Linked DNA regions of Homo sapiens: all the other regions are linked to region 1. Evidence: fine-mapped expression QTL. A gene starts in region 1. Each other region holds a variant in brackets. All regions are shown on one strand. Distances are between the middles of the regions.

What was found.
Region 2: its variant is fine-mapped to the expression of STK35 in whole blood (TOPMed, PIP above 0.99). The same link has a PIP of 0.9 or more in esophagus mucosa.
Region 3: its variant is fine-mapped to the expression of STK35 in whole blood (INTERVAL, PIP above 0.99).

What each region holds. Positions count from the first base shown.
Region 1 is chr20:2,095,952-2,106,199 of GRCh38, forward strand. It overlaps STK35 (serine/threonine kinase 35), which reads left to right and starts at 5,876. Exons shown (of 4, transcript NM_080836.4): 1 at 5,876-6,224; 2 at 6,817-7,414. The coding sequence starts at 5,931. RefSeq lists silencers at 5,762-5,951, 6,052-6,341, 6,352-6,401, 6,692-7,221, 7,242-7,291 and an enhancer at 6,637-7,605.
Region 2 is chr20:2,137,073-2,147,320 of GRCh38, forward strand. STK35 (serine/threonine kinase 35) reads left to right here. Exons shown (of 4, transcript NM_080836.4): 4 at 6,712-10,248. LOC124900458 (a long non-coding RNA gene) reads left to right here. Exons shown (of 2, transcript XR_007067499.1): 2 at 1-4,526. Among named protein-coding and RNA genes, the nearest start is that of STK35, 40 kb to the left of the region's middle. RefSeq lists an enhancer at 8,625-9,288. The variant G/T (reference allele first, on the strand shown) is at 4,998.
Region 3 is chr20:2,158,207-2,168,454 of GRCh38, forward strand. No RefSeq gene overlaps it. Among named protein-coding and RNA genes, the nearest start is that of LINC03086, 44 kb to the right of the region's middle. RefSeq lists an enhancer at 4,848-5,348. The variant G/A (reference allele first, on the strand shown) is at 4,380.

The sequences.
Region 1 (10,248 bases):
GGGATTACAGGCATGAGTCACCATGCCCAGCCTCCATCCCTTGCTATCTTTTGTTTACTTTCTGGTCCCTAATGGGTCTACTGTGATGTGGGACTGCATAACTGCACTGTCATATTGTCTGTGTCAGCCCCTCAAGGCAGACACTGAGTTTTCTCCTGCTCATCCCCATACATCAGCTCCCAAACTGCCTTGCACATAGAGGAGTAAGGGTTCAAAAAATGTTAAATGAATGACTTTTCTTACAGTAAAAGTGTAGCCATTGCTTTATTCAGCCAGTGTCAGCGACTCCTTGAGTGTAGAGAGCACAACCAATGATGTGACATTCCATGCAGCTCTCTGTGCTCAGCAGAGAAAGGACTTCCTTCCGCATCCCTGGCCTGCTAAAAGGGCTGAAAACCTCACTGCTTGGTCGGTTACGGTGGCTCACGCCTGAAATCTCAGCACTTTGGGAGGTCAAGGTGGATGGATCACTTGAGGTCAGGAGTTCGAGGCCAGCCTGGCCAATATGATGAAACCCCATCTCTACTAAAACACACACACACACACAAAATTAGCCAGGTGTGGTGGCAGGTGTCAGTAATCCCAGCTACTCGGGAGGCTGAGGAGGAGAATCATTTGAATCCAGGAGGTAGAGGTTGCAGGGAGCCGAGATCATGCCACTGCACCCCAGCCTGGACAACAGAGTGAGACTCCATTTAAAAAAACAAACAAAAAACCTCACTGCTGCTCTTCTCTTCTACATTTCTTCTATCACTAAATATTGAGCTCAGTCAGATGTTTGGTACTGTCTGAGGTTCCAGGGATACTGAGGCAGGCATGTTTGTCAACAAGAAAGATGTAGAAGAGGGCTCGCTGTAACGTTTACACTGCTTAGCCTGGGGAGGGGCTGAGTGCGATCAAGAGATGTGGAGTGTCTGGGGCCTCAGTTTGAAACCCAGCTGTGCCAGCTTCACATTCGGTTTCTTCATCTGTAAAATGGGGCTAATGAAAGTCACTACCTCATGGAATTGTCGTAATTCTTTGTTAATCCCTGTGCCTGGCAGACAGAAAACTTTAGTAAATGTTGGCTATTAGTCCTAACAGTAAAGTATAGGTTACTTCCATAAGTTAAGCAAGACAAAAACAAAAACTAAAAATTTGGTCAAGGCATCAAATGATTTATCAAGCAGTCCAGCCCTCTTAACAGCATATAAAAGGATTCACACTCCTTGTGGTCCTCCCAGAACTTCATATTCAATCTCTCTCAAAATTCAGGTGGGGGATACAGCTGGAGGCCATTATCCTAAGCAAATTAACTCAGGAACAGAAAACCAAAAACCAAATACCGCATGTTCTCACTTATATGTGGGAGTAAACAATGGGTGCTCATGGACATAAAGACAGGAGTAGACACTGTGTATTACTAGGGTGGGGAGGGAAGGGCAAGGGTGGAAAAGCTACTGGTTACTATGCTCATTACCTGGACGATGGGCTCAACTGTATCCCAAACCTTAGCATCACACAATATATGCATGTAACAAACCTGCACAGGTACCCCAAAATCTAAAAAAACAAGCTGGAATTATAAAAAGTAAATAGGCCGGGTGCAGTGGCTCATGCCTGTAATCCCAGCACTCTGGGAGGCCAAGGTGGGAGGATGGCTGAGCCAGGAGTTCGAGACCAGCCTGGGCAACATGGTAAAATCCTAGTGGCATGTGCCCACAGTCCCGGCTACTCAGGAGGCTGAGGTGGGAGGATCACTTGAGCCCAGGAGGTCAAGGCTGCAGTGTGCCATGATCATGCCACTGCACTCCAAGCTTGGGCAACAGAGCAAGACCCTCTCTCAAATAGATGGATAAATAGGTAAGATGCCTAAAAACAAAATAAAAACATGTATATGTGTATTAGAAAACAAAACAAAACAAAATCAGATAGGAAAACTAGCCAGGAGGAAAGACACTGCTGGCTGTGCTAAACCTACGAAGCCAGTGATACAGGAATGGGGCCAGGGCCACACAATGCAGCCTTCTGTCCTTAGAAACTTCTAAGTAAAGACACAAGTGTTCGCAGCTACAGGGTTTTGGCTTTTTTTTTTTTTTTTTTATGTTTTAATTCAACTTTGTCGTGGTACAATTTACACACAATAAAATTCCATCACCCAGAAAATTCCCCTGTGGCCCTCAGCAATCAATTCCCACCTGAAAAACAACCACTGATACGATTTCTGCCACTCTAGACTATTGTTGGTTGACTTTATATTAATGGAATTATAGTATGTGTTCTTTTCCAATTTTTTTATAGCTTTATTAAGTTGTAAAACTGATTTACATAAATACACCTAATATAAAGGGTACAATTTGAAGTGTTTTAATATATTCCTATCTTGAAACTATTACTACAGTCTAGATAACCCATCACCCCAAAAAGTTTTATGTCCTTTTGTTTTCTATCCACCCTTCCTACCCCAACTACTGATCTGCTTTCTGTCACTACAAATTAGTTTGTATTGTTAAGAATTGTATATAGAATCATCTAGCAGGTACTCTCTTGTGCCTGGCCTCTTTCACTCAGCATAATTATTTTGATTCATACATGCTGTTGTATCAATACTTTATTCCTCCCCCCATCAACACACCCTCAGCAACATTTCATTGTATGGGAATACCACAATTTGTTTATCCATTCATTTATTGCTGAACACTGCAGCATTTTCCAGTTTGGAATTCTTATGGGAAAAGCCACTGTGAATTCCTATACAAGTTGCTTTATTAACAGAAGTTTTCATTTACCTGAGACCCATGGAATTGCTGGGCCACAGGGTAGACATATATTTAACTTTATAAGAAACTGCCAAACTGGTTTTTTTTTTTTTTCCCAAAGTGGTTGTACCATTTTAAAATCTTACCACATGGCTGGTTTCACAAGCTTGTATCCATCTCATGGCTTTTGTACTTGTTCTTCTTTCTTCTTGGAATGACTTCCCATTCGGTTTCAGAGCTGGGTTCTTGACATTCAGGTTTCAATTCAAATGTCAAATGCCAAAGAGGCTATTATGGACTGAATTGTGTCCCTCCTCACTCCAAATTCATGTTGAAGTTATAATTCCCAGTACCTTAGAATGTGCCTATATTTGAAGATAAGGTCTTTAAAGAGGTAATTAAGATAAAATAAGGCTGTCGGAATGAAGGACAAAAACCATACTATCATTTCAATTGATGCTGAAAAAGCATTTGATAAAATTCAACATGGTTTCATGATAAAAACCCTAAAAAAAACTGGGAATAGAAGGAAAATACCCCCACATAATAAAAGCCATATATGACAAACCCACAGCTAGTACCATACTGAATGGGGAAAAACTGAAAGCCTTTAAGATCTGGAATACAACAAGGATGCCCACTTTCACCACTGTTATTCAACACAGTACTAGAAGTACTAGAAGTACTAGCTAGAGCAATCAGGCAAGAGAAAGAAATAAAGGGCATCCAAATAGGAAAGGAAAAAGTTAAATTATCCTTGTTTGCATATTATATCTTATATTTGGAAAAACCTAAAGACTCCACCAAAAAACTGTTAGAACTGATAAACAAATTCCGTACAGTTGCAGGATACAAAATCAACATACAAAAATCAGTAGCATTTCTATATGTTAACAGTGAACAATCTGAAAAAGAAATTTAAAAAGTAATCCCATTTACAATAGCCATAAATAAAAATACCTAGGAATTAATTTAAAGAAATGAAAGATCTCTATAATGAAAACTATAAAACACTGATTAAAGAAATTGAAGAGGACACACAAAAAATGGAAAGATATTTCATGTTCATGGATAGGAAGAATCAACATTGGTTAAAATGTCCATACTACCCAAAGCAATCTAAAGAGTCAATGCAATCCCTATCAAAATACCAATGACATTCTTCACAGAAATAGAAAAAAGGTTATGGTTAAAAAGACCTTCTGATCACCATTTTGCAACTGTAATAATTGTTTCAAGCAAGAATCACCATGAATTCTGAAACCAGTGGGTAAGAGTCTAAAGAAGAGGATATTTAAATAGTCTCAAAATATCTTCCCACAGAATACTTAATAGTTACAGAAGGAAAAATCGTAACTTTATGGTAGAGTGTAACTACTCCTACACCACCTCAACCAAATGATGGAAGTTAACACCACGAATACTGGGACAAACACAATGCCATGTGCCTCCTGATGAAAGGCCCTGAGGAGGCAACTTTTTTCAGCAGTAGTCCTGCCAAAAAATGCATACCCTCTCAGAATAGCAAGGGATGGGTTGGTGGGGGGTGGGGGAGGAGAGAAAAATGGATACTCTGAAACTAATAAGAAAACACAGATGAATAAAAATTTAGGGACATTCTACAATATAACTCGCCAGTATTCTTCAAAAATGTCAAGGTCATGAAAGACAAAGAAAGGCTGGATAACTAACTGCCCTTCCAGATTAAAAGAAACTAAAGAGGCATGACAACTCAGTGCAACGTCTGATCCTGAATTGGATCCTGGGGAATAGCTATAAAGGACATTATTGGGACCATTAGCAAAATTTAAATATGGATGGAGTGTATTAAATAAAACAATTGTATCATTGTTAAAATTCCTGATTTTTGACCACTGTACTGAGATTATGCCAGATAATGTCTTTTTTTTAAGGAAACACACACATATATTTAGGATAAAGGAGTTTGATGTTGGAAACTCTAAAATGATGTAGTAAAAAAGAATATATACATTATATATGTGTGTGTGTGAATATCTATATACCGTATACTGATTTCCTTTCTTTTGGGGTATATACCATATAGATATCCACACACAATATGTATTTGTGTGTATATATACACATACACGAGAGGATATGGATATGCAGCAAAATATAACAATTTGTTATTCTAGTGGAAAAGTATATGATCTTTACGATTCTTGAAATTTATGTGTAAATTTGAAATTTAATCACAAAAAAGTTAAGAGGTTTTCAGCGACCAAATACATTATAAGAAATGGCCTGTATCCAGTGAGCACTCTTTAGCTCATTCTTTTTCTCCATCACACTTACCACTGGCAAAAATTATCCTGTGCATTTATTTAATAATACTTAACATTGTGTGCAAGGCTGTCCTAAGTGCTTTACCTGTATAACCTCTGTGGATCTTCTTACAGGTAAGGAACAAATACACAAGAAGGTTGACTAACTTGCCCAAGGCCACCCATGTGGTTTGTCTCCTGCAGTGGCACAGAACCTCAACCAAGGCAGAAACTGCCTTGTCTATTGCTCTTTCCCCAGCGACTTGGAATGGTGCCTAGCACATTACGGGTGTTCAATAAACATCTGTAGATTCAGTTAACAAACACTGGGCACCCACTAGGCCTACACTGGAATACAAAATACAGAACAAAATATTCAAAAATCTGTGCCTAAATGGGAGCTTTGGGTACTAACAGCCCCACACCCAATTAGCCTCCATCTAGGTATTTCATTTGGGTCTATCATTCCTGGGAATTAAAGCCCATTCTATCCATTTTGCAGAGGATCATTAGATAAACGGATGCTCAGGGTGGGTCAATGATTTGCACAAGATCACTGGGCTGGTAGAAGGGAAGGTCGGGATTCCAACCCAGTCCCTGAGGTTCCCAGGACAGAGCTATGAATCAAACGACCAAGACAATCACCCAGTCAGTATTTATTAGGCGCCTACTGCGGACGGTTGGTCTTCACGCAGATCAGGCGAGAAGGGATAGTGATGCGCGGGCCGCTGCGGAGACCCGGAGCCCGCCGCGGATCACGGGAATTTCGCGCCTATTTTTTGTTGGCTGGGTGTTCTCGCCAGTGATTGGGTCCCGGCAAGGCGTGCCGGTGCGCTCGGCTGCGGCTGCTCCGTCGACCTTTGCAGGACCGGGCGGTGCAGGGCTCACTCGGCTGGCGTCCCGGGGGATGGGCCACCAGGAGTCTCCGCTGGCCCGGGCGCCGGCGGGAGGTGCAGCTTATGTAAAGAGGTTATGTAAAGGGCTCAGCTGGCGCGAACACGTGGAAAGCCACGGGAGCCTAGGAGCCCAGGCTTCCCCAGCGAGCGCCGCGGCAGCAGAAGGATCCGCTACACGCCGGGCTCGGGCCGCCACCTCCCGCGCTGCTCGGTCCCGGAGGCAGCCCGGGCCCGGAGCGGACCATCCCCAGGCAGGGGCTCCAGGGGGGAAACGGGCCGCCCGGAAGTGGAGGTGCGCGGGCCAGGTAAGGGCGCCGTTGGAGGACTGAAGGCCAGCGCCGAGGCTGGAGTTACTGCCACTGCCTCCGCGCTTGGGAAGGGAAATCGGGTCCTCGGCCAGTCGCACTCCGAGAAGCCGAACTTTTCAGCCAATCCCTTCTACCCGTCGCCCTCGGGGACTTGGGTCGGTCCGCTGGGCTCCGCTAGGGCTTAATTCAATGGACTGTTTACACCCGGGCGAACACAAGGCGGGGCGCGGGGAGGAGCGTCACAGAGGGGGCCAAGCAAAGAAAAATATTTCCGCCGGCCAAATCGCGTCTCTAAGCGGTTTTCAGAAGGCGTGAAGCTTGCTGGCTCTTCTTTTTCCTATCGCTACATGACAAGCTAACAGAGAGAGCGGAGAGTTTGTGCTTTTCTTTCCGGTTCCCCCTCTGAGCTGCTGCCCAGTGGTTCGGTCTTTCCCGCTTTCCCCTCCCCTCCCCCGTTCAATCAGCGGCGGTGGCTTCCGTCTTAAAGGGGCCGCGGCGGCCGGGGGAGGAGGAGGTGGGACGCCCCGCGGCCTACGCTCCTGGCCTCCCCGCCTTGGCCTGGCCGTTTAACCGATTCTTTCGCCCGCAGGTCACAATCCAAGGTCCGGCTCCTCCGCGTCCCAGGGCCGGACGGAGGGATGAGGCAGGGGGGGCCCGGGCAGCGCCGTTGCTGCTCCCCCCGCCGCCCGCAGCCATGGAAACGGGGAAGGACGGCGCCCGCAGAGGTACACAAAGCCCGGAGCGGAAAAGGCGAAGCCCAGTGCCGCGGGCGCCCAGCACGAAGCTGAGGCCGGCGGCGGCGGCCCGGGCCATGGATCCGGTGGCGGCCGAGGCCCCGGGCGAGGCCTTCCTGGCGCGGCGACGGCCTGAGGGCGGTGGCGGGTCCGCGCGGCCGCGTTACAGCCTGTTGGCGGAGATCGGGCGCGGCAGCTACGGCGTGGTTTATGAGGCAGTGGCCGGGCGCAGCGGGGCCCGGGTGGCGGTCAAGAAGATCCGCTGCGACGCCCCCGAGAACGTGGAGCTGGCGCTGGCTGAATTCTGGGCCCTCACCAGCCTCAAGCGGCGCCACCAGAACGTCGTGCAGTTTGAGGAGTGCGTCCTGCAGCGCAATGGGTTAGCCCAGCGCATGAGTCACGGCAACAAGAGCTCGCAGCTTTACCTGCGCCTGGTGGAGACCTCGCTGAAAGGTAGGAGCACCGCGGGCCTTTCCACCCACGCAGGGCCTGGACCCCCTGCTCTCCGGACGGCTTGGCCCACACTGTTCCTGGCCTTCCTAGGCCTCAGACCTGGTCCCTGTCACCCTGTGCCCTGACACACCCTCCTTTCCTGGGCCCAGGCATTCGGCCCTCTCTTCTCAGGTCCTAAGATCAGTCCCTGGGCCTAAAGTTGGCTGGTGTTTCCATAACAAGAGCTCGTTTAAGTGCTAACCATTAACTTAATAAGTGCTCAAGAATTGCGAGCTATGGTTATTAAACGTCTTCTATTTTTAAGATCGGTTGGGGGAGTGGAGGAGGGGTCGGGTTCAGTTAGTAGCAGAACTGCGGAGCCTCCTCACCCCCGAGGGCCTCTCTCTTTCCCTCCCAAAACAAACAAAAAGAAAAAACTTGACTGGACCCACCCACACCCTCTCCCTGTCTGGTTCCAAGTTTCCTGACACCCTCCAGCTCCAACCCCCAAACTCCTGTGGCTTCCTCGTCTGCCTTTTCCTCTGAGGCCCCCGGCCCTTCATCCCAGGCAGCCGAGCAAACTGACTGTCTTCTGGCTTGGTCCTCTGAGGGGTGCAGGCTGACAACCCTCACAGGTGGCCTGAGAGCTGTCACATAACAAAGCATCCGGCATCTTTTCCCTCCGTTTTACATTCTTAATCTTTTTCTTAACCTCAGAGGCTGGCTGGGAAGTGGTTTTACTTAAAAGGAAAATGGGGTACATTGAGGCAAGAGGTCTTGCAGTCCTGGAGGAACTAATTATCTTAGTTTCCGGGTTTTAACTGCAGTTAGGGAATGTATTCATCCTAACTACTCAGTACTCACAAGCCTTTTTCATACTACCAGTAGCTAAGTGTCTGCTTGGAGAGGAGAGAGGCGGTAGAAAGTTTGAGGAGACTTTCCGAGGCAGGAGGATCCAGGGGAAGAAAGTTTACTAATCCGAGTCCCAGCTGTGGTCTCAGTGCTGAAGTAATTTTTAGGTAATAACTTCAAAAGTAAATTCTATCCTTTTTCTATAAATAAACTAAGGCTTAGAAGTGAACAAATAACTTGATCAGGGTTAATCCGCTTGAAAGGGAAGTTAGACTGTACTCCTGGTTTCCTTACATTTCTCAGAGCTTAAGTGACGGGGATCCCAGATCTGTCTTGATTCGAGGCCTGGATCCTTTCGAAGGCGTAATGCTGTTCTCTGCACCCTGAGGATGAACTTTTTTAAGAGTGGGTAGGATTTGGGGTGAGTTTGGAGGGGGTGGTTTCCCAAAATCTTGTTACTTTTGCACAACTTAAAGATCCCCCAAGTCTTTCCCAAGAGAACGCTTTGTCCCATTGCAAGTCAGTTGTTTGACAGTGGAGTTGGAAACATGAATCAGTATCACCTAGAGTCCTTTAATTAGATGTCTAACTTTATAAAGTCCATCCGTGCCCCATCCATTCTGAGAAGCCTACCCTCTCCCCAGGGTGAGTGTTTTTGTTTTGAAAAGACTTCCAGCAGGGCACAATGGCTCACGACTGTAATCCCAGCACTTTGGGAGGCTGAGGTGGGAGGATGGCTTGAGCCCAGGAGTTTGGGAACAGCCTGGGCAACAAAGTGAGACCCTGGTCTCCACAAAAAATAGAAAAAAAAATAGCCGGACCTGATGGCACAGGCTTATAGTCCCAGCTACTTGAGAGGCAGAGGCAGGAGGATCAGTTGAGCCTGGGAGGTTGAGGCTACAGTGAGCCATTATCATGCAATGGCACTATAACCTGGGCGACTGAGCAAGACCCTGTCTCAAAAAAAAAAAAAAAAGACTCCCTAGGGGATTCGTTTATCTTACCTATATTCTAGGAGCGCATCACTTACTTTGAAGTCTTTCTATTCTCAGACTTCTCTTAGTCTTCTCCTTTACTGCCAATGAATGGTCTGGACTTCCTACTACAGGATTGCCTTGGGATGTAGGAATTTGCCTTGCCGAATGTTTATTCCTTGTGTCCTCAGTTCATTGACGCCAGTCTCGAACCTTCAACCTCAGCTTGAAGCTCTTGCTTACTCTCTCAACATATAAATACTATGTGGACTTTCCTCACCTGAAGAATTTGTCAAAATTCCAAAGTGACCCCATGGCAGCATAGCATAGTGGTTAGTACCATGGACTTTGGGGTTAGACCCTCTGGCTCATCCCAGGACTGACTGCACAAAACATGGAGCAAATTGTTTGAACCCTGTGAGGAGCATTCCTTTATTGTAAGATAGTGGGTATGTACCTATGACATTAGGTACATAGGGTCACTGTGCAAACTGTTAATGTCAGCAAGTGCTCCACATAGGGAGGAATTCACTGCCTTATATAAGTTCACACCATGTTCTGTACTCTTCTACCCTCACCCCCTTCAAGATTCACATTGTTCTTGCTCAAGTTTCCCAAACTTGTTTCATCATAGAACACACCTTGTTTTCTGTGTTGTCAGGCACACCAAGTTGACAGAAACACTGGTGTTTTCATCCTCCCTTTGTGAACTAAAACTGGGACCTAGAAAAATGAAATCTTTTGCTTTAGGCCGTACACTGGATTGGATTGGTCCCTTTCAGTTGTTTGGAGTCTTTAAAATATTTGAACCTCTACGGTGTTCAGGGCTCAGAGACAGAGCAGTGAAGAAAATATGTGTTGTTTCTGCTTATGAAAATGACATTCAAGCTGACTTGCAATGTGTGGATTTTTCAAGTAGTAAATAGGTAATCATTTTTGCTTCTTAAAATAGAGAACAGATACCAAAATTACTCCAGGTTAAACTTTGCTTATTCTGGATTCCAAAATTTAGGGGTCTTGATCTGTCCT
Region 2 (10,248 bases), 41 kb after region 1:
CTGGAATTTTTGCCCTGGCAAGTGACTGCAGTGAGGTTTTATGGGTTTGGTTTTGTGTTTTTTTGGATGTGATTTGCAGCCACTGTTGTAGCTTATTAAAGTACCTCCTGTGCACCTCACTCCACCTGCTATGTGTACTATCACTGGTCTTTGTACCCGGCAAAGTAGACATTTCCTCATTTTAGGCTGAGCAAACTGAGGCTCGGGGGACCCTGACTTGGTGAAGGTCAGCTGGGATGTAAATTTTGGATCTTCCTACTCCAAAGCCCATGCCTTGAGAGAACACCACCTCCAAGCCACGCTCCTCTGCATTTGGGGCCTGCCCCTGGATATCTGCCTGTGGGTGAGCTGCCTTGGTTTGGTCTCCTGGTCAGGGCTCAGATGTCGTAAGGCGTGGACCTGTGGTCTTCTGGGTTGTCATGGAGCACTGCGAAGCTCCTGTTGTATATGTTGTATAATCTCTGCCCTCTTGCTCCTCTTTTTCCTAACATTTTGCCCGTTCTGTATACCCGAAGACTGAAAACAGTGTTATCCCATTTGTCAGTACTCCCATTCCTTCGACCCTGACAACAGGCACGTTCACAGCACAGTCATCCCTGTTTTTGCCCTACTTTAAGCACCACAGTTGGGAGTGCAGCCTTAGAGGAATGATGCATCAGGAAGCGTGACTCCCTGGCCTTGGTGCCTCTGAGTGATTGGAGGAGACATTCGTGCTGGGGCCACCGAACCCCCAGGGCTGGCATGTTGATGTCTGAATGTGAAAAGCCAGATGCTTTGGTGTATTAAACAAGTGAAGAATGACTAACCCCACTTAGAGGAAGGAGAGGACTGCCGTCTGTGACCCTGACAGATGACTTTGCCTCTGTGCACTTGTGAGGCCTGCTTGCTCCACAGCACGATATGCTGAAAATTAATAACCTGAGCCTCAGTTTGCTCATCTGTAAAATGAGGATAATTCTTACATGGTCCTTTGGACAAATGAGGTGTTGCATATTCAGTTTGCACGGCAGCTAGCATGTCATAGGTATCATTAGCTACAGTGATAATGCCACTACACAGGACTGCGGGTGAATTTAGGTAGGAGTGAATTCTTGGCTAGCCACCCAATAATACCCCACTTTGAGTTTATACTGTACCTTAGTCTATGAGTATGCCAATGGGATGACTTTCTTTTCTATTAACTAAATCTGAGAGTCAGGATAGAAAGAGAAAATTGGGCTTTGGGTTTGAAGTCCCAGTCTGTGATACCCTAAGAACCAAAATGACCATTAACATGAATGACAGCAAGATCGATCTTACTGAATGCCCCACCCTGGGTCAGGTGCCATGACAGGCAATTTACTTGAAGAATTCTTCACTCTTCACAGCAGGCCCCTGAAGAGGAAAGAGTTCCATGCCCATTTTCTAGTTTAGGAGAAGGAGATCATGGAAGTAGCTAGTAAATGGCAGAGCTTGCATTTGAACCAGGACTGTCTGCCATAGAGCCTGTGTTCTTCCCTGAGGGAGCACTGGAGTGACGATAAACCTCGTGGTTACCAGACTTCCACATTTCCTAAGATGGTGCAATTTTAAAAACTGGGGAGGCAGGTCCAGGAGGGAAGCAATTTTTAAAACCATTCCTACTTACTTTCATCATCATTTCATCAAAGAAATGATGTTTTAGGCCAGGCATGGTAGCTCATGCCTGTAATAATCCCAGCACTTTGGGAGACCAAGGCAGGAGGATTGCATGAGCGAAGCCAGGAGTTTGAGACCAGCCTGGGCCACATAATGAGACCCCGTCCCTACAAAAATAAAAATTAAATCTAGCCAGGTGTAGTGGCATGTACCTATAATCCCAGCTGCTCAGGAGGCTGAGGCAGGAGGGTTGTTGAGCCCAGGAATTTAATGCTGCAGTGAGCTATGGTTGTGCCACTGTACTCCAGCTTGGGTGACAGAGTGAGACCCTGTGTCTTAGAAAAGAAAGCAAAAGGTAATGACATTTTGACACTAATAAAGTAGGAAGGCCATCCTTTTAGAGTAAGGGATAATCACCAAGGTATTCTGTGCCTGCAGGCTGAGGAGTAGGGGAAGGAGGTGAACACGTGAGCCATCCTTGTCTCCAGCCCCATCCTGCTGTGCATGTTCCCCTCATATCTCCCAGGCTTCTGTTCTCCAAGCTGCTAATGGCCTTCATGAAAGTAGTTCAGTTTCTCAGTCTTCTTAAACAGACCAGACACCTGCCTGACTGGCAGAGAAGCTTGCTGGAAGACCGTTCACTGCCTGGTTGGCACCATGTCCCCTTTTGTCCCCCGAGCACTAGACCTGTGCACAGGCACGTAAGCCTTCCATGAGCCTTTTTTCTGAGTGAGTCTATTTATAAATGAAGGGATTAGATGGGTTTTAAACTCCACTTAAGACTCTTCTTGTCTTCTCTAGGAAGGGATTTTGCATCGTTACATGTCAAAAGCAGGGGATTTGGAGTGAGACTGCCCTGAGTTAAACCCTTTTCTCTACCACTTACTGTCTATGAGGCTGTTCTCTCTGAGCTTCAGTTTTCTCATCTCTAAGACGAGGGGGACGATAACCCCTACCTCTTAGGGTTGCTGGGGTGAAATGAGGCAATGGATGTAAAACACTCGATCCTTTAACAGTGATTGGAAAGCAGTGTTGCTTTACGAGGTTGTTGCCTATAACACAGTTAGAACTTGCACAGACAGACTGCTCAATAAGTGATTGCTGTTACGCCAGTTACAGAGAAATAAGAAGGTGGGGTGCACTGAGAGAACTTGGTCCAAGAGCTGAAATGAGAAAGGTAAGGATTCATAGCACATTTTCCCAGATCACTGACACCTTCCACCCCCAAGGTCATCTCAGGTGCAAGCTACTGGAACCATTGCTGAGCCGGCTTTGGAAGCACTGATTGAAGACTATCATAGTGCAGAGACTTTGGGTAGTAAAGCTGGAAAACTTTGGATTAAGTGCTGGTTCTACTGCTCAGCAACTCTGGTGTGGGGCAAGTTGCTCCATTTCTCTGGGCCTGTTTTCTTGTGAAAACTGGCCAAATCCCTCCTCACAGTAATCATGGAAGGGCACTACAGATGTCAGTTGCAGGTTTATCACATCACCACTTTTCATTATGCTTAGCAGGTGTGATTTTTGCCCTCAAGGAGCGGGCTCTGGTCAGAGGTAGGGGTTCCACAGAGAGGAATGAGAAGAGCCCCGGTAGAAGCTGGTAGCCAGGCAGTCAGGCACAGCCTGAGCAGTCAGGGAGCTGAGATGTGGCATCTGCTAGGATGAAGCACCACAAGCCTAAGGCCTCCCCAAGGGCCCACTGGGGCTGAGACCTACACCCTTTATTGTGCCCACAAGTACCTGGGAGGGTCTGTGCTTAAACTCAGAACCATGTGGTCTGAGCCATTCCTGTTCATAGCTACAGAAAGCGCCTCCACTACCTTCGGTGAGCTTACTGTGCTGTTAGCTCCCTGGGAAAAATGCTCTTTCTGTGATGGCAGATGGGAAAAGAACCCCAAGCCAAGATCCTCTCCCCAGTAGAGAGCCCTCTTATTTTCCTTCTTTGTGCCCACAAGAGAGAACCAGACTCAGACCTGTAGGCTGTTCTGAGGCTTCCAACAGGAGGGCCAGAGCCAGTGCCAGAGCTAGAGGGAGCAGGGAGGAGCCTTTGGGAAATGTCAGCTTCACTTCCTGGCATGGGACCCAGTGATTACAGCGGTCATTACAAGCTGGTGTCTCAGGAGTTCTTGCAGAGTGCTGTGCTGTTGGTCTGACCTTCTGTAGTCACACTGTGTTCTGCTAGTTTATTATGTAAAAAGGAACCTCTGGTTTCTGAACCTGCCTCCTTGCCAACACTGCTTTTCAGCTGCCACATGCTACCTTCCTGCTGATGGGCATCCTTTTCAGGAGATTGTCCGCAGGGAGGGAGGAAAGGAATGCTGGAAAGTCATAACTGGTCCCAAAGATTATTTTAGCACATCACATGTGGCTGTATAATTTCTCATCGTATTTCACAAGGTCTTAATGTCTCAGATGGTGAGGGCCTACCCTAAATACCCTCTTCCCCCATCTTCAGGTTGATCTGCTGTGTCTACGGAAAGCACGGAGAGAAAGCAATAGGCATGCTAAATAGAGCTAGAGTTTGAGATGGCTGCTGAATCATCAGGGAATATGTTTATGATGATTTTCTTTTTCCAAGTCAAAAACTGGGATACAAGACCCACAAGTGGATTTTTTTGAGGGGAATTAACAGACCAAGGAACAGAAGCAGCAGAGTGAAAGACTGGGCCCGAGAAATCCTGTATTTTCTTTCCAGATCAGCCACACCCACTTTCTTGGTCACCCGCTCCCTGGGCAGTAGAGCAGGGAGTCACATAGTCTAACCTCCCGTTTGGCAGTGTGGAAGCTCTCCTTTGTCCACTGGGCATGGAAGAGTCCAGACAAGACCCCACATCTGGACCTTTCTATTGGAGCTGCCAGCTTTTCTTGTTCATTAAAGTACCCTATTTTTCCTATTAAAAACTAAAATATAACATTGGTGTGTGTTCATTATTAAAAATCAGAAGTGAGGGAAGAGGAAAATCCAGTCACAACAAGCACAACATGTTGGTGTATTTATTGTCAGATTTTCCTACACTGAGGGGTTTGTGTTTTTACATAGTTATGGTCATGCTGTGCGCTACACAACTTTGTAACCTACCCTTTTCCACCTACCCCAGGGAAGTGCTTTTGTCATAATCTTCAAAATGTCATGCAATGATCTCATTTCCTCTGTAGTATATCAGTGCGTTGAAGGATCATTTGCTTACTTAATCCTTATTTTTGGACTTGTGAGTTGTTATATTTCAGTGAACTTCTTTATCCATAAAGTTCTTTTCATATTTAGGTTTATCTGTTAAGCTTGGCTTTCAGGAGTAGAATTTCAGGGAGCTACCAATCTAAACACCTTTGAAGCCCTAAAAACAGTGCCAGACTACCTTCCAGAAGCCTTATCCCCTCCTCCA[G/T]CAGTGTGCGGGGCACCCTCACCAGCCAGAAACACTTTCAGTGGTTGCGTGGCTGAGAACCATGGCCTGTTCAGATTTAACACGTTTATAGTCTCTGGTTGGGGACAGTTGGCCAGGAAGGGGTAGAGTCATTGAGTATGTTTGTCCCTGCTGTGGGCCAGGAACCTGAGTCATTCCACCCAGACCTCAACCAAGAGTCCCCAGTGCTCAGAGGGAGAAACTGAGGCCAACAGACAGTAAATTATCCAATATTGTCCTATCCTGCTGCCTCTTGGGAGGACTGGCCAGGTCCCTTCCCAGGAGCTGAGGACAACGAGCTGGTGTTGTCAGCCCGCACAGGTGGCAAGTCATGGCAGCCACGGTGCTGGCTCTGCCTGACAAAGAAAGGCACGCACAGTGAAAGACTTGTCTGCTTTGGTCATTCGGGCACTTTAAAAACTCCTAGATGGGCCAAGGTAGGTGGATCACTTGAGCCCAGGAGTTCAAGACCAGCCTGGACAACATGACAAAACGTCGTCTCTACTAAAAATATAAAAATTAGCCTGGCGTGGTGGCATGTGCCCTGTAGTCACAGCTACTCAGGAGGCTGAGGTGGGAGGATCACTAGAGCACAGGAGTTCAAGGTTGCAGTGAGCTGTGATCAAGGCACTGTACTCCAGCCTGGGTGACAGAGCAAGACCCTGTCTCAAAAAACCTCCTAGATGATTCCATGTGCAACGAGGCTGGAGCACTGTTGCCCTAGATGGCCCGCCCTGCCCAGGACAGCGCTATACTTAGCACTGATCCGATAGCTCAGAGTGGGCGCTGCCCAAGACTAATCTCTGTGGGCCCTTGTATTCTAGGCCTCCAGTAGAATAAGCCACTGAAGGGCAGGCTTCTTGTCTTATTCCTGAGGCCTGGCACTAAGGCAGTTTCCAAATAATAGCCAACACTAATAGGATCAGGCACTCTTCTTGGTTTTACGTTCATTTAATCTTCATAATAGCCTGTGACGCAGGTACAGGTGATGAGACCAGGGAACAGAGGACTTAAATTCCCCCACAGTCGAGGGGCAGCTCCTGTTTACTCAGTTGCCCGTTCTGGCTCCAGAGCCCTCGTTCTTAACCCCCACAGTGCACTGCAGCAGACAGTGCAGGCCCAGTCCAGCCCTGCCCCTGGGTGTGGGATTCTGGCCCATGTTAAGACCTGAGCAGGTAGCCTGGTTCGGATTCTCAGAGGCCTGAGCTTCACTCTTCTCTTCTGTAAAACAGGATTACTGAACCTAGAGAGGGTTGCTGTGGCGTTTCTAACAAACAGCACAATTAATCACAGAGAGTGGGGAAGAAAGCATGAGTGGAAGCAGTGCTGGCAAGGTCTGTGGGGACAGACTATCCAGGGTGGGCCCTGCGGTGTCTTGCTCCTAATAGTACGGGGAAGCCAGGGTTCAAGATTGGTTTGACAGCTAGAGCCAGCAAGCTTGGGTTCCCAGCTAGTGTCTGCCCCTTAGTCAGTGTGCCCTTGGGTAAGTTACTTAACCTGAGCCTCAGTTTCCCTATCTGAAAAATAAGCATGTGTGAATAAGACCAGGGAGGTTGTGAAGCTAGATTTACCCCATCTCTTTAGAGCTCTGCCCCACAGCCCCCAGCACACACAGCTTCAGTGTTCCTCTGGGTTGAGGGCTGGTGCCCAGGCCTGCTGACCAATGTCCCCTCCTTACCCGCCTTCTGTCTTCCAGGTCGATTCCTCGGGACCCACAGTCTCACCACGTCTCCTCCAGAGGACGGCAGAGGGTACAGGTGGTGGCCTGGCCGGTTGGCGATCTCCCGACAGCTGGATCCGGCAATGTGAAGCTTTTGTTTGGGTTTCCCCGCTTCTTTTTAGTTTTGCTTTATTTTTTTCCTTTTCTTTTCTTTTTTTTTTTTCCTCTTTCCTTTTTTTAAATTTAAACCATTGAGACTTCAGAAGAGCAGGACACAATGCTGTGGACAGGCACCAATTTCTTTAAAGAAATTCAATGTGGGCAAGGCATATGTGTAAATTTCACTTTTACTTTTTATAAGGGGTTAGGGAGCTATTTTTGGTTTTGTCCTTCACTTTCCCTCTGTCTTCCTTCTTTATACTTTTCTCAGTTCTACTTATGACACCTCACTTCCCTAGAGAAGGCCTGCCTCCCCATAGGGAATCTGGGGGTTTCTTCTGGAACGGGGCGTGAGGACACAAGGAGGCCTCTGGGCCACGCCTCCCTACCAGATGCAGGAACTCCTGGACTCCTTGGTGGGCTGGCCCTGGCTAGCCCTTGGGCCTCGGAGATGATCAGAGGTGAAGAACCGCCTGGAAGAGGAAGGCCAGGGTTTGGCCAGGAGAACTAAGAAGGTCTCAACTCCAGGCTTTGTTGTGTTTAAGCTATTGAGAGCCCCAGGCCACACCAGGACTTGCAGTGGTGGGAATCCATTCCTCTTCTGCCCTGTGTTGCAGGGAACTAGGAGGTAAGGGTGGAGGGCGACCATCTCGCTCTTGCTGGCGGTGGAGCAGCCATCCCTGCCTTTCTGTTGGGAAAAACTGTTGTGCCAAACTCTTGTGTGGAACACAGCTGGGTCTTCAGCAGGCATCTGTCACTGCCGTGAGGTCAGCGCTTCTCACCTAACTGCCTCCTGGATTGTCATCTTCCCAGATGTGTCCCATAGTGTCCAGGTGTCACAGAGACGGCCTGAGGCCCTAAGATCTGGTTGTGACTTTGCCATGATAACAGGGTGTCCTGAACTGGCTGCCGTTGTCGTGTTCTCACAGTGAAGGGCGTGCCCTGTGTGCCGGGGTCCATGGTGTCATATGCAGTGACACACACTGTCAAGCGCCATTTCCCTCACCCCTGGAGACTTACTGTTAGGTGCCTGCCCTCAGTATAGACGTATCCAATGGGAAAACAGCGGACCTGCCCAGAGCAGGGAGGTGTCGTGGAACTGGGTAGACCCCCTGCAGCGTTAGGGGCCCATTTGTGGGCTCGCCACCTTCAGGCTTCCCCAGCCATGACACTTCAGCCCCGCCACCCATGCCTGTCTGCTGCAGCCATCCTTGCACTCTCCAGCGACACTCTCGCACCTCCCTAGGGGAAGCTTCCCTCCCCCTGGGCTGCTGCTCTGAGCCCATCTGTTCTCCCCCTGCAAGAAGGGGCAATGCTCTTGTGTTGTCCCTCTGTCTGGACGCGCCTGGCCACTCCGAAGGCTTTTCACCCCATTATGGCCAAATAGTATAGGGCCACTGGGGAGGGGGAAGGGAATCATTTTGTGTTCATTTTTGTTTTCTGTTTCACCTAAACCAGCATAGGATTGATAGGGGAGACGGTTGGCGGGCATTTCCGTTTCTATGTGACCAAGGCAGCAGGGGCTTTTACCTGCTAAGCGGCAATCCTTTGGCCCTGAGAATTTGGGAGAGAACAGTGCATCAGGCCAGGCTCAGCAATATGTTTGCTCACATTCTTTCAGCCTTCTGTCACCCCCCTCAACACCAAACTTTCTTCCTTGTGAGCAGAAGGTTGGCTGCTGTTAGCAGGATCCCACAGTGATAACCAGGCCCTTCCCTTCCTAAGCCAAAACCCATTGTGACTGCCTGTCTCTCCTGTCTCTGACTTCTCAGGCAGCCTCCTGAGTGCACTGAGTTGTATCCGAGAGGGTGGGAACAGCAGCATCCCCTAATTGCAGTACACGGTTCCTTTTCCGCCCGCCACCCTGCCTTTCCTTGGGGGCAGCTGTCTCTCTGTACATGAGCAAATGGGCAAAAACAGTCCCCAAACCCAGCACCCCCCTCTCCCTGGCTGCAGCCCACACTGTAACATCCCTAGTGAGGCTCCAGCCTAATGAGCCCCTTATTTTCTTTTTTTTCCCTCCCCAGGTCTAGTAGCTCTAACTAAAAAGTTCTTGGAGCCATCGTGCTCCCCCTTTGTTATTTTTCTTGCTATCAGAGTAGCAAGAAACAGCACCCCTGTAGGTGACAGGTGGGCAGCCTGGTAGGGGTCGCCAGCCTCCATGCCCCCTCATCTTCCAGTTCTTGCTTAGTGGCACGACCTCTTTCCATAGCATAAATGCAGGCCAGCGTTTTAGCCCCAAGTGCCTGCCCTTGCTTCTTACCCCTCCCCTGCTTTCTCAAACACTTGCCCACCTCAGGCACTCAGCGGGCTCCGCCGTGGTGAGAGAACTGGCCGTGGCTCAGCCCCGGGTAGCACCTGTAGTTTCAGTGCCACTCTCCACTGTCCCCTTGTGGACCAGCTTCCACTCACTGTCACGTCCCCCCTCCTGCGTCTTCACTGGGTCTCAGGCTGCCAGCAGCTCTCTGGTGCATCGTCTCAACACCACCAAGTTTGTAGGACCTGCCCAAGTTCTAGTAGTATTCAAAACTTCAAACGGCAGTCATTTGTTCTCCTCGGCTCTGTGGCAAGGATAGCCCTTTGGAGGGGGACTCTTGACCTCGGCTGTTAGGGATCTGAACTTGGTTTTCCCGTCAGAAGAATCAGCAGGACAGATCGTAGTGCCTTATTCCATTGTCCTCCCCTGGCCAGGCCTCCTGGCTCAGCTGGAAGTGCATGGCTTCTTTCTCCCTATCTGTGTCCTCTGTCACTTGCTCTTTCACTCTCTCTCTCATTCCCAGAGAGCCACGGGGGAGGGATCACCCTCACCCCCAACACCCTCTTCCTGAGGGCTGTAGCCAGGTCCGCATCTCCCCACCACCACCAGGGCACTCACTCGCAGCTATAGCCCAGGACAGAAAAACTGTGCTTTGGACAGGTGCACACTCTCTGCCTCTTACCTCTAGCCAGGAGGATGCCTCAGTCTGTTCATTCGAGACTGGCCCCGTCTGAACCTTCTCTGGGCACTGGGGACTAAGGTTGCAGGCCTTAGCCTCGTCTCGTCCCAGAGGCATTGGATCAGGAGAATGGGAATTTTTTTCCTCCCACCTGGACATAGTTTGCCCCTGTGGCTGCCTTTCTGAGGGAGTATACTAAATGTTTACTTAAGAAACACCCTGTTTACAGCCAGAGGAGAAACACCCAACACTGAGTGGAGATTTGACTCTGGACAGGGCCTGGCCTCCTTAGTGGCACTGCCGGGGGGCCCCAGAGCGAATGAGGGCAGAGATGCCCGGGGCAGGGGCAAACGCCCTCCGCTCCCTCTGCTCCCAACCCTGTGGTGCTAGGACCACTCCCCGCCTTCCCTACGGCCTCCTCGCCCTGCACATTCCCCACCTCCACATTCCCCTCCTCCAAGATCTCAGCTCCTTAACA
Region 3 (10,248 bases), 62 kb after region 1:
CAAAAGCACAATTTATAAAAGAACAAATGGATAAATTGAACCACATCAAAATTTAAAACTTCTGTATTTCGGCCGGGCGCAGTGGCTCACGCCTGTAATCCCAGCACTTTGAGAGGCTGAGGCAGGCAGATCACGAGGTCAAGAGATCAAGACTATCCTGGACAACATGGTGAAACTCCATCTGTACTAAAAATACAAAAATTAGCTGGTCGTGGTGGCACGTACCTGTACTCCCAGCTACTCAGGAGGCTGAGGCAGGAGAGTCGCTTGAACCCAGGAGGCGGAGGTTGCAGTGAGCCGAGATAGTGCCACTGCACTCCAGCTTGAAGACAGAGCAAGACTCCATCTCAAAAAAAAAAAAAAAAACCTAAAAACTTCTGCATTTCAAGGGACACTGTTAAAAGAATAAACAGACAAAACAGACTGGGAGAAAATCTTTACAAAGCATGTATTTAATAAAGAATTTGTATCAAGAATATAAAGAACTGTCAAAATTGAATAATAATAAAACACCCCCGCAAGCTGGCAAAAGATTTGAATAGACATGTCACCAGAGACCATAAGCATGGCAAACTGCACATAAAAAGATGCTCAACATCATTTGCCATCAAGGAAAATTAAATTGAAAAGTTTTAAATTTAAATTTAATTGTTTTATACTTAAGTTGTAAACATTTTAAATTTAAATTTAAAGATCAAATTAGGCCGGGCACAGTGCCTCACGCCTGTAATCCCAGCACTTTGGGAGGCCGAGATGGGTGGATCACCTGAGGGCAGGAATTGCAGACAAGCCTGGCCAACATGGTAAAACCCCGCCTCTACTAAAAATACAAAAATTAGCTGGGCGTGGTGGCATGCACCTGTAAACCCAGCTACCCAGGAGGCTGAGGCAGGAGAATTGCTGGAACCTGGCAGGCAGAGGTTTCAGTGAGCCGAGATCACACCACTGCACTCTAGCCTGGGTGACAGAGCAAGACTCCGTCTCAAAAAAAAAAAAAAAAAAAAATCAAATTAAATCTCCAATAAGGTGCTACTTGCTACACACCTATGTTGGTAAGTAGGAGGAAGAACTGGAACTCTTATGCCCTGTTGGTAGGATGGAAAATGGTATTACCACTTTTGAAACACTTCAGCAATTTCTTAAAAATTAACCATAAACTCCAGCCATTTCACTTCCAGGTACTTACTCAAAAGAAAAGGAAATCCATGTTCATGCAAAGACTTAGATAAGTACATCTTTATTTATAATAGCCCCAAACTGGAAACAACCCATCTGTCCATCTGCATATCAATGCATGGATAAAAGAATTGTGGTATATCCACACAGCCAAATGCTACTCAAGAACACAAAGGAAAACTAGGCATACATGCAGTAACATGGGTGAGTCTCAAAGTAACAATGCTGAGGGAGAGGAACTAGACACAAAGAGTATGATTTTATTTACATAAAACGCTAAAAAATGCAAACCAATCTATAGTAACTGAAAGCAAGTCAGTGGTTCCTTCAAGATGGTGAAGGGCTGCAGGGGAATATGACAAAGATACCCGAGGAGGGCCGGGGGCAGTGGCTCACGCCTGTAATCCCAGCACTTGGGGAGGCCGAGGCCTGTGGATCCCTTGAGGCCAGGAGTTTGAGACCAGCATGACCAACCAACATGGTGAAACCCCATCTCTACTAAAAATACAAAAATTAGCGGGGCGTGGTGGCAGGCGCCTGTAGTCCCAGCTACTAGGGAGGCTGAGGCATGAAAATCAGTTGAACCCAGGAAGCGGAGGTTGCAGTGAGCTGAGATCGCACCACTGCACTCCAGCCTGGGCAACAGAGTGACAGTCTGTCTCAAAACAAAACAAAAAACCAAAGATACCTGAGGAGAATTAGTTGTGACGGGTGTGTTCACTCCCTGGAATACGGTGACGATTTCATGCGTGTACACATATGTCAAAACTTATTAAGTCGTATATTAAAATATGGGCAATTCATTGTGTGTCAACTATACCTCAATCAAATTGTTTTTAAAAAGTAGGAAGGACATAAGAGTTCACCTGAAGGGGCCCCTACCTGGAGGCCAAACTTGGAACAATTTGAGCGTCAAATAAGAACAGTGATGATAATGGATTTACAACACATCGAACAATAATAATAGTTTTTTAATCTGTGTATGATGATACTACGAAAGCAGGGGAGAGGGAAGGGAGAGGAAAGCTTTACAGAAGAACATAGAAAGGATAATGGGAAAAATCTCTATTTGCAGCTACTAATGCAATAATTGATTCAGGCAAGGCATCAATAGCTGCTAAAATCACTATGTGAAAATTCGTGAGGAAACAGGTACTCACATATCTCAAATATCATAATTCATCACACAGATGAATTACTATGTACAAAAGGAAAGATTAGCTTTATAATGGAGAGATCTTCGGGAACACATTAGTCAAATGATCACACCTTAGCATTACCAATGATGAGACAAACTGGCAGGAGGCCCCTCCTTATATAACACAATGGGAGACACAGCCTCCCCTCTGCAGATCTCGTGCCCAGAATGCTTAGCCAAGTCTAATCACAAGGAAACAATCAGACACACCCAAATTGAGGAACATTCTACAAGACACCTGGGCTGTCTCTTTTACAAATGTCAATGTCATGAAAGGAAAAAAAAGGTGGGGGCGATGGTACAGTGGGGACTATTCATTCCAGATTAGACCCTAAAGGAATGTAACAACCAAAGGAAGTGCCTGATCCTTGATGGAATCCCGTACTGAAAAGAATAAAAGTAAAACTGCTATAAAGGACATTATCGAGACATTTGGGGAACTAGAATATGAGCTGTATGAGGACAGCCTTGTAACAATGTTAAACATTTTGGTTATTCTGGTATTTAGTTAGTATTTTTGTTGTGTGGGAGAATGCCGCTTGTTGTAGTATTCTGCTTGATACACGGATGCATGCCCAAGTTTTTAGGGGTGAAGCTTTATGATATCTCTCTCGCTCTCTCCCACCCTGCCCTACCCCAGCCACATACCTGCCTACCAAGAGAACAGCACAAATGTGGCAAAATGCTAACTAGGGAGGCTTGGCGAAGGGTGTAAGGGTATTCATTGCATGATTCTTTTAATTTCTCTGTAGTACAAAAATATTCAAATTAAAAGCTAGAGGGCAGGCTGGGCGTGGCAGCTCACGCCTGTAATCCCAACACTTTGGGAGTCCGAGGCAGGTGGATCATTTGAGATCTGGAGTTCAAGACCAGCCTGGCCAACATGGTGAAACCCCATCTCTACTATAAAAAAAAAAAAAACAAAAATTAGCCGGGCATGGTGGCAGACATCTATAATCCCAGCTACTCAAGAGGCTGTGGCAGGAGAATCATTTGAACCCAGGAGGCGGAGGCTACAATGAGCTGAGATCGTGCCTCTGCACTCCAGCCTGGGTGACAGAGTGAGACATCATTTAAATAAATAAATAAAAGCTGGAGGGGAAAGGTAGGGGTGGCTGGTCCAGAAGGGTCCTTCCAGCTCCAAGAGTCAGCTACCAGCTCTGACCTTTGATTGCCAGTACCTGGGCCCCTCCTGCCCACCTGGCAGCATCTTCCTTCTCCCAGCAGCCATGGTGCTGTCCATCCTGCCGGACCTGGACCACTGGGAGCAGGAGGTCACCTCCTCCTGCCCATAGCTCAGAATGAAAGCATAGGTGAGTTGCAGAGGAGGGAGCAAATATGGAGAAGTAATAGATGGGCAGGCTGCAGATGGGAGGGAGCATGGCCTCAGGAGGTAGGGGACCCCCAGATCTGTTTGTAGATGAGAGACCCACAGCTGCCACTCTGTGCATGTTGATAGGACCAGACTTGCCCTCAGGTCTGCTGGCTGGAAGCCTGCAGTGGTGTCCATCCCTCCGAGTCCTCACCATGCATACATCCTCTACTCTCCTCTCCCCTCACTCACGCCGTTCCAGCCTCCCCACACCCCCACCCTGCCCTGAGCTGCTGTGTTATGGCAAGGACACACAGGCCTGCCCCAGGGCCCCTGCACTTGTTCACTCTCCTGCACTGCTTCCCCCTGCCCCTGCCCTGATGTCTGCCCAGCCACACCCTCGCCTCTGTCTTCCTTGCTGGCTTTGTTTTTGTTTTTCTCCAGAGGACACATCACCATGTGACATCCCACCTGCGTGTCATGCTTCTTGTCTGTCTCTCCCCCCACATGCCAGGGGCATCATTTTTATCCACTGTGTTCGCTGCCATATCCCCAGCATCTAGTAGGGTGCAGGGTACATGGTAGATGCTCAGTAAAGAGTTTGTGAGTGAATGACTCCAAAGCCAGGTTTCTGCTTTCCCTTGGACAGTGGTGTCTGTGTGTGAATGTGTGTGTGTGTGTGTGTGTGCGCGC[G/A]CGTGCACGTGTGTCAGTTGGGCAGGTTGGAGGGTGTCCAGCCAGCTGGGTCATTCCTCTGGGACTCATTTCCTGGGGTGCAGGCAGAGTTCTCAGAGGGCTGTGAGGACGCCACTTGCAGCATCAACACATTACATAATCTGGCACTGGACAGCGGTGAGGGGCAGGCAAAGCCTTTATTCTGTGTTTGCCCAGAGAAACTTCCCCAGGTCATGTCCTAAGCTGCCAGCTCTTCAGCTTTGTGCTCTCTAATTGCCCTGACAGATCCCACCACCCATTCACCCGGCCCACTGGCTCTGAAAGAAGACTGCATGGGTGACGCTCGGAGCTTGGGAGGAGCCCAGGCCCTGGTATGTTCTGGATGCTGTTGCCTGGGGCCTGAGCCCCACCCAGGCAGTGATGACCCTGCGAGGCCGAGCCTCTCCATCCTCCCGTCTGTACACGCGCAGGGCTCCAGGTGCTCCCTCTGGTGCCGCCTCGCTGCCTTCTGAGCTTTCCTGAGCTTGGACTCATGGCCTGAGCTGCCCCTGTGGGCACAACCGGATGCCTCCTCCTACCCACAGAGTGGCTCAGGTAGCTCATCCTCTGTCCACCTGGGACTAGCACTGTCACTGACCTCTCAGAGTTATGGGGACACGGTGCATGTCAGGAGTCCAGCTCCTTCTCAAAGGTCAGTGAGTGACAGCTATTGTTGTAGTCACAGTCCCTGAGGGTCCACAGTGAGCAAGGCCATGCCAGCTCCCGGGGCTTCAGAATCAGCCATCCCTCCAGTCCCTGCTTTGTTGGCACATGGAGCCCGGTACAGGGAGATACATATACATAAACAAACGTATACGTATACATCAGGCAGGGAGAGCTTTGAAGAGAGAAGTCAGGTCATGGGATATGGAGGGCCAGGCCGTCAGGGCAGCTTCCCTGCAGAGGTGACAGCTGAGCAGAGGCCTGACTGGAGTTGGGGTGAGCCAGGCGGTGGCTGGGAGGGGGAGCAGCAGGTTCAGAAGCCCTGAGTGGAGGGTTGGGGGCGTCTAGGCCAGGCTGGCTGCAGCAGAGGAAGCAAGGGGAAGAAGGGAAGTCGGAGGTGTCAGATCAGGGGCTTTGCAGTCCTTTGCATGGTCCCTGGTTTTCCTCCAAGTAGGGAGGGGTACTTTTGAGGGTTTTGAGCAGAGTGGCAGGATCTGGCTTCCATTTTCAAAGGGTCCCTTGGCTTCTATATTAGGAATAAATTGGGATGGAGATGGCTGAAGAAGCAGGCAGATGGGCCAGGAGGAGCCCCATGAACTCGGAAGGGCTGGAGGTTCTTGGGCCAGGCTGTCAGGGTGGAGACGTGAGAAGTGGCCAGAGCCTGGAGAGCTCTGGGAGTGGCCAACAGGTTGGCCATGACAATAGAATCTAGGCAGTCCTACTCCAGAGCCTCACCCTCCACTTGCTGCCCCCTGAGCCCAGACGGGACTGTGGAAAGGTCAAGGCCTAAGGAGCATAAGAAGTGACTGACAAACGTTAGCTCCCTCATCCTGGGGAGGAGGGGAGAATGGAGTGTCAGGAGCACAGCTGTTGACTCTTAACACCTTCTTTGTGTCATGCCCTGATGTACCGGTTACACTTCTAATCTCCACAGCACCCCCTGAAACTGCACACTGTGGTCCTCATTTTAAATAGAGAGGAACTGAGGCTCGATGAGTGGGGAATGACTTGAACCAAGGGCTGCTGGCTCAGTCGAGGCACCAGCATGAGGGTCGTCCTTCCCTTTCTCAGAGACCTCCTTTATAAAGAGGCTGTGGTTGAGGCCAGGGCTCACCTCCACCCCATCAGCATCTCAAACTGTTTTCTCTAGAGTCACATAGCACTTTCCTCTGAGAAGAGGGGCGCCCATCACGGTTTTCCCTACCCTATTGCAGGGCCAGTGACATCTCCACGCCTTTTACCCATCTGTGCCTTCCTGCTTCCCCCAAATGTGCCCATACCTCCACCCACCTGTCCAAGGGTGCCTCAGCTCAATAGGTGAAAGGTGGAGCTAACCTCCTCTCCCATCTGCACCCTCCATCATACTCCTCCTCCTGTCCCCTGGGGACAAGGACGCATATGCTTCTCCCAGCCCTTGGCAGGTACTAGCAACTCACTGCGGGCATCTGCTCTAGGAGCTAGGCACAATGGGTAACCCCATTGTACAGATGAGAAAAGCAAAGCACACGGATGTTAACCCACTTGCCTGAAGTCAGCCAGCAGGTGACTGGCGGAGCTGGGATTTGAACCTAGGCAGTCCTGCTCCAGAGCCTGACCCTTCACTCGCTGCCCACTGAGCCCAGATGGGACTGAGGGGAGGTGGAGGCCCAAGGTGCATAAGAAGTGCTTGACAAATGTTAGCTCCCTCGTCCTGGCCTTCAGACAAAATACTGCAGCCTGGAAAGCCTCACTGTGACACGATTGCATGCTGCTAGGTGTGTTGTTACTGCTCCTATTCTACCGATGAGAAAACCAGTGCTGCTGGAACATCAGCCAATTCCCCACAATGAGGAGGAGGGAACCTGAGCCCGACGCGGAAGCAGCAGACCCAGATGAAGGGAGTCCCTTCAGTGTCTTTCCTATGTGACCATCAAGCACGCGCCAGGGAGGCGTCAACCCGGTCGACTGCAGTCCAGGCGTGGGAGGGAAAGCCAAGTCCGAGGCCTATTTTACACTTTTGAGTTTTCCTCTGGATGAAAAAAGCAGTTCATTAGTGAGATGGCCACTGCGTCCTGCGCCTGAAACGTCGGTAGCAGAGGTAATTGGGGGCCTCTGTCTGGCCTCTCAGTCCTTGAGAATTTTCAGGTAGATTTTAGCCGGGAGCACTGAATTCTACTTACAATGTAAAATGCGTCTGTGAAGTGTTTTCTCTGAAGTGGGAGTAGGTAATTGATTTTTTAAAGAAAGCCACCTTTTGGATTCCGGAAAACACTTTCAGGTCCGTCTCTTATTTTTCAGCACATAAAGGCAATTATCCCAGGTCAGCACTTCCCACAGGAAATGGGACTCTAATTTTGCACAACAAATGTTTCACTGTTGCATTTTCCTTATTGCAAGAGAGATTGTTGTCCCAGCTTGTTTCACATCAGAGTGAGAAAAACCAAGCCCTGCCTTAAACAGTGGCTGAGGTTAGAGATTCCACAGGGTTTCGAAAGCCCTCTGTGTCCAACTCACCATGTGTTGCTGGCAGAGCCGCTTTCCTGCTCCGTGCCTTAGTTTCCCCATTTGTACAGTAGTGATCAGCACAGCACCACCTCTAATAATTCCCAGCAGTGGTACATGGTAAAAATGGTCACGCGATCCCTTTCCTCTCTCTATGCCCTTTGGAAATCTCTTCCTACCCCGACAATGGTCATGGCCACATGACTTGCTTTGGCCAATGGTGACAATAACAAACATAATGCAAGCTGAGGCTTGGAAGCACCGCCGCTCTTTGGAACGCTGAGACCACCATGAATGAGCCTGAGCTAGCCTGTTGGAGGGTGAGAGGCCACATGAGACAGCAGTGAGCCCTCCCGGCTGCGCCAGACAGATGCCTGAGGCCATCCTAGATGAGCTGGTCTAGACCGGAAGATCCATGGAATCGTTAGAAATAATTGCTTATTGTTTTTGTTTGTTTGTTTGAAAGGGAGTCTCACTCTGTTGCCTAGGCTTAAGTACAGTGGTGCCATCTCAGCCCATTGAAACCTCTGCCTCCTGGGTTCAAGAGATTCTCCTGCCTCAGCCTCCCAAGTAGCAGGGATTACAGGCACCCGCCACCACACCCGGCTAATTTTTGTATTTTTAGTAGAGACTAGGTTTCACCATGTTGGCCAGTCTGGTCTTGAACTCCTGACCTCAGGTGATCTGCCCACCTGGGCCTCCCAAAGTGCTAGGATTACAGGCGTGAGCCACCGCACCTGGTCTGCTTATTGTTTTAATCCATTAAACTTAGGGGATGTTTCGTTGCACAATAGGAGCTGACACGTCCCCTCTTGTTCTTGTACCTGTTAGAATCTTTGGTTCTTGGAAGAATGGAGAATTTATTGGGAGATTATTAGGGAACACAGAATTGAGGCAAAGGCTGGAGAGGCAGGCTTGGAATCAGGCAGGAACCAGAAGAGAAGTTACCTGATTGTCAGGACCCCAACTATGGGATTAGCATCTCCACTAATTCTCCCACCCTTCATCATTCCACTCAGACGATAACGTCCCATATGGCGAGATGGTGAGGTCACACATCTCACTTCGGCTGTATGAGTGCAGTGAGAGGCAGGACCTAAGGAAAATGCACTCACAAGGGAGCAAAAAGGCCTGGCACCCCCAGAGCCAGTCGATCTCGGTTCAAATCCCAGTCTGCTACCTGCTAGCAAGTTTCCATTTCTCTGAGCCTTGCTTTTTCCCTGAAAGAGAGCTGGGAGCTGCATCTGTGTCTGGGCGTAAGGTTATGGTAAAGATTCAATGAAATATCTATGTAAAGTGCTTAGAACATTAGTACCTGGCATTCAGAAAACATTCAATAAATGTTAGTGTTATTGTTATTATTTATTATTATTAATTTATTCTGCAGGGGAGGGGAGAACTATAATTTATTTTGGGAGATGTAGCAAATCCCTAAGACTCCACAGGATGTGGAAATCAGGGTACTGTTAGGAAGGGGAGTAGGATACTGGGTGACTAAAGATGACAACTGTCCCCTCTAGCGGTGTTATGAGGCTCCACCTTCATCATTCCTTTCCTGCGCACCTACTGTGTGCCAAGCCTAGTGCAGGCGAGGCAGAGACAGGTGTCAACAAGAGGGACTTGGTCCCTGCTCCCCTGGAGCTTGCCTTCTAGTTGGGGAGAGGCTGGCGATGAATAAGTGAATCAATAAATCACATGGTCATTTCTGAGTGCACCAAGTCCAAGATGCATGAGAAAAAAAGGGACGAGATGCTACTTAGGGAGTGGAATGGGGATGAAAGAAGTCTCATGATGCCGGTTTAAAAGGAGTGATTCAGCATTTAGTAGCTGCTGCACAGTCCCTATCGAGGAGCTGGCAGCACGTAAGTCCTCTGGACGTGTTGTTTCCAATCCCCAAGATGGGGAGCAATGGGAACCCATGGTGGAGAGTGGAGGGGTCAGGGATCCTGGCTCCCAGTTCTTTTTTTTTTTTTTTTTTTTTTTGAGATGGAGTCTCACTCTGTCACTAGGCTGGAGTGCCCTGGCACCATCTCAGCTCACTGCAACCTCCGCCTCCTGGGTTCAAGCAATTCTCCTGTCTCAGCCTCCTGAGTAGCTGGGACTACAGGTGCATGCCACCGTGCCCAGCTAATTTGTGTATTTTTAGTAGAAACGGGGTTTCATCATGTTGGCCAGGATGGTCTCCATCTCCTGACCTCATGATCCACCCGCCTCGGCCTCCCAAAGTGCTGGGATTACAGGCGTGAGCCACCGCGCCCAGCCGGCTCCCAGTTCTTATTGTGCATCTTGGGCAAGTCGCTTCCCCTCTGTGAGCCTGATTTTTCACGTTGATGCAATTAAGGCACCGAATGGATCATCAATTTCCCCAAAACACTTTAGCCTTTCTTTTTTTCCTTGTGAGACCCAAATAAAATAGATGAAGATGAGGAGGGCATACCAGAGTGTCACTTGCGAGATCAGCGTCTCTTTTACCTTCCCTCCGAGGCCCTGAGACACTTCTGCAGACACCTGAGCCTCCAAGGAGTCCCGCCTGGAAATCACAAGGGTACATAAAGGATGCTACAGTCATCTTGGAATAGACAGACCTGGCTGGAATCCTAGCTTTGCCCCTTACTTGCTGCATGACCGTGAGTCAGTCCCTTGACCTCTCTGAGCTGTCTGCATCACCTTGCCAGTGGGGATTGGAATTAGGAGATCAGATCTATGT